Homo sapiens: one gene and its partner. The protein of the gene in region 2 interacts with the protein of the main gene of each other region in a pairwise test. Each region holds a gene or a part of one and is shown on either strand. Other genes may lie near its edges.

Evidence for each region. The genes of interacting proteins can lie anywhere in the genome.
Region 1: the proteins of C8orf44-SGK3 (region 2) and ITCH interact in binary tests that used the Homo sapiens proteins (3 or more experiments, as listed by UniProt).

Annotation. Positions count from the first base shown.
Region 1 is NC_000020.11:34,509,273-34,512,382, reverse strand, and holds the end of ITCH (E3 ubiquitin-protein ligase Itchy homolog), read right to left. Parts: 3' UTR 610-3,110; downstream 1-609. UniProt on the Homo sapiens protein: Acts as an Acts as an E3 ubiquitin-protein ligase which accepts ubiquitin from an E2 ubiquitin-conjugating enzyme in the form of a thioester and then directly transfers the ubiquitin to targeted substrates.
Region 2 is NC_000008.11:66,837,671-66,843,358, reverse strand, and holds part of C8orf44-SGK3 (serine/threonine-protein kinase Sgk3), read right to left. Parts: intron 3,357-5,688; coding exon 3,244-3,356; intron 3,149-3,243; coding exon 3,112-3,148; intron 2,336-3,111; coding exon 2,249-2,335; intron 1-2,248. Other genes in the region: serine/threonine-protein kinase Sgk3, read right to left, coding at 2,249-2,335, 3,112-3,148, 3,244-3,356.

The DNA.
Region 1 (3,110 bases), on a different chromosome or scaffold from region 2:
GTTGGTGGTTCTCTACTCAGCACTCATGCCTGTGGTCCCGGTCTTTTAGTTGTCTCAGAAAAGCAATTCATATGGAGGCCTTTATGTTGGTTGATGGCCCCTGCAGATATCTTCATCTTCAACATGGGCACCAAATCCAGTCTCATCTGCAACAGCTCTTTCTAGTTTTTTTCTACCCGTACCGTGGCAGGCCAGATCTCAATAACGCAGGCCTCCATAACAACTGTTTCAGCACTGAGTGGTTAAGTTAAATATTAAAAGCTGAAAGAGTGAGGGCCCTTATGCAAAGGCTAGAATGTAACAAAAGGCCACCAAGGGTTTTGCCCAGGCCTTTTCTGGGCCTTGAAGCATGACAAGATAACAAAGGAACCCATTTAGGATTAAACAAGTTTTATTGGGGGTCTGAAGGAACTTATTGAGGGGGTCTGAAGGCCTCCACAAACAAGTTTACTGGGGGTCTGAAGGAAGTCCCCAAACCTCCATGATTTAGCAGGAAACAAGATAAGGGTAATCACCCCAGCACCTGGACCCATTTAGATTAAGTAAATTTACTGAGGCTCCAGAGGAAGGTCTTCAGGGCTCAGATCTTATTTATAGATTTAAAAAAGTGAATCACTTATGTCTTTAGATGAATGTACACTCACATGTAGACATATAGCTTATAATGTAAATAAGCTCTGGAAAACTTTGTAGTTTTGAGTTGGTCTTGGGATCATTTCCAGGCTTTCTCCCCATACCTGGTTACAGAAATAAACTCCCTCCTTTCTCAGTTCATCTGCACCTCATTATTGGGCTGCGAGAATAAGCAGTCCAACCCTTGATTTGGTCTGGGAACAATACCACAATCCAGATGGGCTGTAACTTGCCACTTAAAAAAGCAGAGAGGCAGAAATCTATGTGACCTGGTCACATATAAGTCTCAGAAGGTGGGGCCGGGGAGAGAGGAAAGAGACCCCTCCTTACCCAAGACTGATAGAAAAGCATGCAAATGAAGGACCAAAAAAGTTTAATTATAAACAGTCTTACATCTTGTAGGAAAACGCAAGTGAGGCAACCACTGAAGGAACTTTATAAAAGCATTTGACTCCCTGTAATATTTGTAGCATTACCTGAGTATTAAAAGTAACAGATCAAGAAAACAAAGGTACTCTTAATACAGTAATATACAATCCAGTGCTGCCAATTCCATTTTTAGTTAATGAAAGCAAATTATACAAACAAAGTAAATAACTAAAAGAAAAACAAAAAAAGGAGGGGGGCTGGAGATACCAACAATACTAAATAGAAGTCGTTAACTCTAAAGGAGTTTAGAAAGGTAAGTTACATCCACAACAGGAAAGGATATAAAAATAGAGGAAAAATTTAATTCCGTGAGTCAACCCCGGTAACATTTCGGATTATTAACCAGATAAGTAAAAAGTGGTAGAGTGGGCTTGACTGAAATAGTTCATTTAGGATGAGAACTTTGTGTATAGTTGAGTCAAGTTTCACTAAAATTTCTGATCATTGGTATGTCAATCTCTTGATGAAAAATCAGTACCTGAATATGTCTTTTTGTTTTTTTAAGAGACAGGGTCTTGCTATGTTGCCCAGGCAGGATTTGAACTCCTGGGATCCTCCCACCTCAGCCTCCCGAGTACAATACCTGAATTTTAAATAGAGTTATTGTAAGTCTTATGAAATGAGATTTTGCTGCACTCTGACATAAGATAATAAAAGACAGAGCAGGAATTCATTATTATGAGCTGCTTGATCAGTTTTAAACCACTCCATTTGATGAAACAAGTGAGGTCCTTCCCTCCTGACCAGGCTGTGGAATGCTGTCTTCCCCAACCCCCACCCCCTGCAAAAGAGCAGAACAATAAGGCAATTGCTCATTTTACTTTGTTTTTATTTCAATGTAACATGCAGTAAAAAAAAAAAAAAAAAAAAAAAAAAATTAACAGGATTTATTAGCATTTACAATGCTTACAAAGAAAAAGACTTCTAAAAGCAAGTTAGTTCAGATTTAAGAAAAAGCTCTAAGTAAATACTTACAATAAATCTATTTCCATATGTTCAGTTTGGACCAAAATTTAAGATAGCATTTGGTAGATATTTATGTCTGCGGTCTATTTGCAGTATTTTTATATAACCTCTGATTCTTGGGATATCCAGCCCCCATTTTCCTAACACAGCAGGGAAGACATATACATGTGGCCACTTAAATTAAAGGAAAAAATGGAGTAGGGAGATCCCAGGCTGCAAAAATATATACAAGCATTTACCTTTTCCAGAACTAAACACTTCTTCCATAAAAATATTAAATAGCCAAGCCCTATAGAACTAGGGCCAGGGCTACTTCAAATATAACTATTCTGTATTTTAAAAATATAGGGCAGAAAGCCTTTTGGGTGATATTTATATATTTTCACACAATATTTCTAGGTCCCTAAATGAATCATGAAGCATTATATAGAACCAAAAAAATGTATTTTCTTACATTATCTCTTAATTTAATTTCATAAATCTCTAGTAAATATTGTAGGTAACTACATTTCAGTATGAGAATTCACCTCAACAGGAAGTCTTTATAGAGGGCTTAATCTTCATTAGCCATATATTACCAAGTTCAGACTTATATAATGAACGGGTAGTTGGCAGACATTCGCTCTGTAAGACAAAGCAATAGCGTTTTTTCTCCCTACCAACAAAAAGGCAGAGTCCCTACTTTTAACAACCAGGGCTTTTAGAAACCACACAGTATTTCCTGGGGTACATGAAATAAAAAAACCATAGGGCTGGGGAGAGCCTAGCCTCCCCATTTACACTGAGCTGCTTGATGAGGCAACCCTTTCACTCATGTAAGTCTCTGCTTTATGATGGCAGTATCTTACAGTAGACAAGTTTAAAAAAATGTTTTTATTGTTGTTCCAGGATGTAAAAGGAAGAACATTAGGGACAAAAAATTGTTTTTCTTTTTTCCATATGGAACAGGGTTCTGCTGCTTATTCTTGGCTTAATATTACTTGTTCATGCTATGCCTCTGAAATGTGGCAAAAGTCCCTGATACATGAGCTATGAGGCTGTCCTCAGGGTTCAGCTATGATAGAGACTCAGCTGGCTTAGGC
Region 2 (5,688 bases):
CTATCATACTGAAACCAAATTATCTAGATTTCCAGTGGGTTGGATATTCTCATTCTACACCAGTGGTTCTTAGCTAATGTCAACTAGAACACTTCACAATACATGTATTCTGCATTTCTCCTTGGAAACTGTGATACAGTTAAAATAAATAAGAGTATCGCGAAGGTAGAATCTATAATTCCCAATAGGTGATGTAGGTATTTGTGGGGAAAGTCTTTCAAAGATTATTTTAGAAGTTCATTTGGTCATTATTCATGTTTTCCCCTTAAATAATTTTTTTGTTTTTTTGAGACAGGATCTTTCTCTGTCGCCCAAGCTGGAATGCAGTGGCACAATCACAGCTCACTGCAGCCTTGACTTCCTGGGCTCAGGTGATACTCCCACCTCAGCCTCCTGAGGAGCTGGGACTAGAGGCATGCGCCACCACACCTGGATAGTTTTTCGTATTTTTCATAGAGACGGGGGTTTAGCCATGTTGCCCAGGCTGGTCTGGAACTTCTGGGCTCAAGCAATCTGCCCACTTTGGTCTCCCAAAGTGCTGGGATTACTGGCATGAGCCACGGCACCCGGCAAGAATACTTAATGTAGCAATTATAATCCTTTTTTTTCTTTTCAGTAAAAAAGAAAGAATTGCATTCTCATCTGAGAATTATAACAGCAATTCTCTAACATATTATTTAGAAAACTTGTATAAGTTGTAGATGTCTATTTACATTTTAATTTGTAGGAAATTTAGACTGATCACAACTTAACACATCTAAGACAGTGAACTTGAATTTTACATTCCAAAATATATTACCTCTTCCCATATGAAATACATGTAAGAAAATAATTTCCTCTTAAGCTTTTTTATGTGATCTAAAGAAATGGCAAAATATTGGGAGGCTGAGGCGGGTGGATCACAAGGTCAGGAGATCGAGACCATCCTGGCTAACACGGTGAAACCCCGTCTCTACCAAAAATACAAAAAATTAGCCAGGCGTGGTGGCGGGCGCCTGTAGTCCCAGCTACTCGGGGGGCTGAGGCAGGAGAATGGCGTGAACCTGGGAGGCGGAGCTTGCAGTGAGCTGAGATTGCGCCACTGCACTCCAGCCTGGATGACAAAGCGAGACTCCATCTCAAAAAAAAAAAAAAAGGAAAAGAAAAAGAAAAGAAATGGCAAAATATTTTAACTATGAAATTAATATACAATAACAAAGAATGTTTCTTCATCCAGAAACCAAAACACAATGGTTATAAATATATACAAGCACTAGGGTTAGACAGAAAAAAGAAGGAAAAACCCATTTCAAGGTAAATATTTATTACTTAGAGATACTTTTAGTTAAGTTTCTGAACTCAGTTAGAAGCCATTCTCTCACACGTTTTCAACATTGTATTTGCAAGTACTCCACGATAAAGATGAAATATTATGTGGTACCTAAAATCATTATAAATACCTTGGAATTTGGACAGTTCAAAATAAACTAAACTTGTTTATGTGTGTGAAGTATGAATAATAAAGCTTTTACATGATTTGTAAGGATCATTACTATTGTCACAAATAGATACTTTTTTTGCTAGCTAACATGATTAGAAAATGGGATGTTCTGATAAATAAATTCTGATTTGTGATTTGTTTTTCCATATCCACTGCTTTATTTTCTTCTAGTAAGTAAACACTTAATTTTGTTACAAAATATTTCAAGCATATAAAAAACAAGAGAAACCAATAAACTGCAACTGAGATATAGTCAAGTGTTAATATTTTGCCATATTTGCTTTAGCTCATTTTTTAAAAGAAAAACAGCTTTATTAAAATAGTCACATATCACACAATTCACCCATTTAAAGTGTGTGATTCAATGTTGTTAACATAGTCACAGAAAGAACACTTTCATCACTGATTTGTGATTTTTAAAGGATTAGAAATATAATTTTCTACAATATTTACCTTAGAAGAAAACAAAAACAAAAAAAGAAATATAATTAAATGCATAAAGAAGCCTAAGGTAAACTTCTAACACTAAAAACAAATAAACATAATTTATATTTGTTGGATTATTCAAAAGGGTCTTGCAGTATCTAACAATCACAGTTAAAAATACCCAACTATCAAGGCATGATTATCAGGTATTTCCAGCTGGCTGGAAGCTGAAATGACAGTTTTTATTCTACTTTTCTTATTTTAAATTTATATATGCAATCTGTAATTCATATTTGCATTTTATACATGATTATATAAATGACAATGAGATATATTTCTTACCTCTGGTGTCCCACAAAATGTGGTAGTGGTGTCAGAAATAGCAATTCCTTCTTTACAAAGCCCAAAATCTGTTAAGACAACATGTCCCTGACAAATACAGGGGCAGTAAGATAAAACAATGCATAAATATGAATTGACAATTTTTCAGTTAATTTTTTTTTTTTTTTTTGAAACAGAGTCTTACTCTGTTGCCCAGGCTGGAGTGCAGTGGTGTGATCTCGGCTCACTGCAACCTCTGCCTCCTGGGTTCAAGCGATTCTCATGCTTCAGTCTCCTGAGTAGCTGGGACCACAGGCGCGTGCCACCTGGCTAATTTTTGCATTTTTAGTAGAGATGGTGTTTCGCCATGTTGCCCAGGCGTGCCACCTCAAGTGATCCACCCATCTTGGCCTCCCAAAGTGCTGGGACTACAGGCGTGAGCCACCACACCCGGCCAATAAATTAACAATTTTCAAACTCCTTTTATTTTGACATAATTATAGATCCATATGAAATTGCAAAATAGTATACAGAGGAAATTGTCATTGGTACAATACTATTAACCAGACTGTCAACCTTGTTCAGTTTTCACTTTTTACATGCATGCTTTGTGTGTGTGTGTAGCTCTACGCAATACAGATGTATAGATTTGTGTAACCACCACCAAAGGAACTTCCCTAATGCTACCCCTTTATCTTTGCACTCTCTATCCCCTTGGACCCTGTCAACCACTAATCTGTTCTCCATCCCTACCGTTTTGTCATTTTGAGAATGTTATATAAATAAAATAACGCAGTACAGAATCTCTGAGACTTTTTTTGCACTAAGCATAAAAGCAACAACAAAAATTGAGAACTAGTAGATTTTTAAAAGAGAATACTTACTACTGAATCCAAAAGAATATTTTCTGGTTTCAAGTCTCTATCAAATTAAAAGGAAAGAAACGCAAAACTGAATACAAACCGAAATAAAATATTGTTATATACAATTTTTACAAGTATATTTTAAAATTGTACCTGTATACTATTTTGATGGAATGTAAGTAACCCAATGCACTAGCAATTTCAGCAGCGTAAAACCTAGCTCTGTGCTCAGGAAAGGACCGTTCTCTTTGTAAGTGGAAAAAAAGCTGTCAAATTGGTTGTGGGGGTGGGGGGAGAGAGAATGTTAGGATCATTCACACATAGCATTAAACAAATATATTCGGTAAATACAAAGGTAGGAATTGTTCTTTGTTACTTTGAATGTGAGCTAAAAATGTTAACAAGGCACAGAAATGTGACTCCCCTTCATCCATGTCCCCACCTAACAATCATTCTCTCTCTTCAACCACGTGTCTTTGTTTACCCTTGCTAATGTCACTCATCTCCCATTTACTACTTAATGCAAAAATGTCCTCACCCTTCCAGGCAACTGTTCTGGAAAAGATTATCGATGAAGATCAACGATCTTGATACTGCCATGTAATTATCTTACAGGGCCTTTCTGGACTATGTTTTCCATTTGAAAAAAACAAACACTATTCAGAGATTAAAAACTAGAGCCCAGCAGAACAAATATAACCCATATGAAAATATATATATATATATATATATATATATATATATATATATATATATATATATATATATATCTCCATACATATAATTTACTTGAGCCAAATACTGTTTTTCAAAAAATCTGAATTAGTTGATAACATTAAAAACTGGGAATTTGGGGGTAAAAATTCATGGTTTTAGTTTTTTTTTTTAAAAAGATAAGCTCTGGACCATTAGGCCTACACTTCACAGCAGCAGCAACCGGCTGCAGCTAAACAGCAGTTGGACTTTCTAGTTCATTTCTTATACTTCCTAATTTTTAATTTATTTCTTATAACCTGGCCTTTAACTAAGGTTACTGCCTGGGGGAAGTTTCCACTGGGTCCCTTGGCTTCTAAGACAAAAATCTCTCCTTGAGTCTTGGTGAATTCCATCTCTGCTCCTTTCTGGCCTCGGAAAATGCAGGGATGACAGGGTTTCTGCCCTTGGTCCACGTGTTATTTTTTCTCCAAATACCCTTCCCAGGTAACTTTATCCATTCTGTTGGTTTTAACCACCACCTCAATGTTGATATCTCCTATGTGGACATTAGCCAACAATTTTGACTCAGGAAATCGGAAGCTGAGGCTCAGAGAGGCTTGCTCATCTGCCAAGTGTCATAAAACTTATTTGTTTTTATTCTACTTTGCTCTAAAAAAGATATGAAGTAGTATACAAAGCTAAGTATTCGTATGTCAAAGTTAAAATTTTTAAGTATGAACACTGGGGGAAAATAAGAGTAATAATGTATGGAAACCACACTCCTATCCTTTCTCCTCATCTTTAACCCTTGTCTACCTATTACCCACTCAACTTCTCCTCCACCCACCCTGGCATTCTATTGTATTTTATTCTCCTTTTTTCATTATCTTGCATCTTTCAGATGACAAGCCTTCCTCTTCCATTCTTTGCCAGTGAGCAGTCACTGTACAAAAAGGTCTCAGAAGCAAAGCCCTAAAAGAGCACGAAGAAACCACACATAAAGCAGGGAGCTCGCAGTGGTATCTCACCTGCACTTAGATGCTTCACATGAACATTTCAAAGACACAAGGTGGCACTTAAGAATGGGCTCTGCAGTCGAGATATCTAGGTTAAATGCAGGGTCTGACACTTACTAGAACACCGTAACATTGAGACAGTTATTTAACCTCTCCGAACCTCAATTTTCTTATTTATAAATAAGAAAATTTCAGCCAGGTGCGGTCGCTCACGCCTTTAATTCCAGCACTTTGGGAGGCTGAGGCGGGTGGATCATGAGGTCAGGAGTTTGAGACCACCCTGGCCAACATGGCGAAACCCCGTCTCTACTAAAAATACAAAAATTAGCTGGGCGTCATGGCACGTGCCTGTAATCCCAGCTACTCGGGAGGTTGAGGCAGGAGAATCGCTTGAACCAGGGAGTTGGAGGTTGCAGTGAGCTGAGATCGCACCACTGCACTCCAGCCTGGTGACAGAGAGAGACTCCGTCTCAATAAATAAATAAGAAAGAAAATTTCATGGCATTTAATATAAATGCCATGGCAAATTAAATGGGCATAATAGTGTTTTCTGAAAGAGTTGTGATTTACTGACATAATGCATGTAAAATAATTGCAAAGTGCCAAGCCTCAATAAATTCTCTTTATCTGTCAGCACTTGGGCACACACAAAATTAAACGACAACCTTCAAGGTGAAAACAATGTGGGGTCACCTGCATCAATGAATCAGGATGCCTGAGAGATGGATAATCTTGCCTCTACACTGAAGAGTCTTAAGGGAATTTTTTTTTTTGACACAGGGTCTTGTTCTGTCACCCAGGCTGGAGTACAGTTGTGTGATCATGGCTCATTGCAGCCGCAACCTCCTGGGCTCAAACAATCCTCCCACCTCAGCCTCCTGAGTAG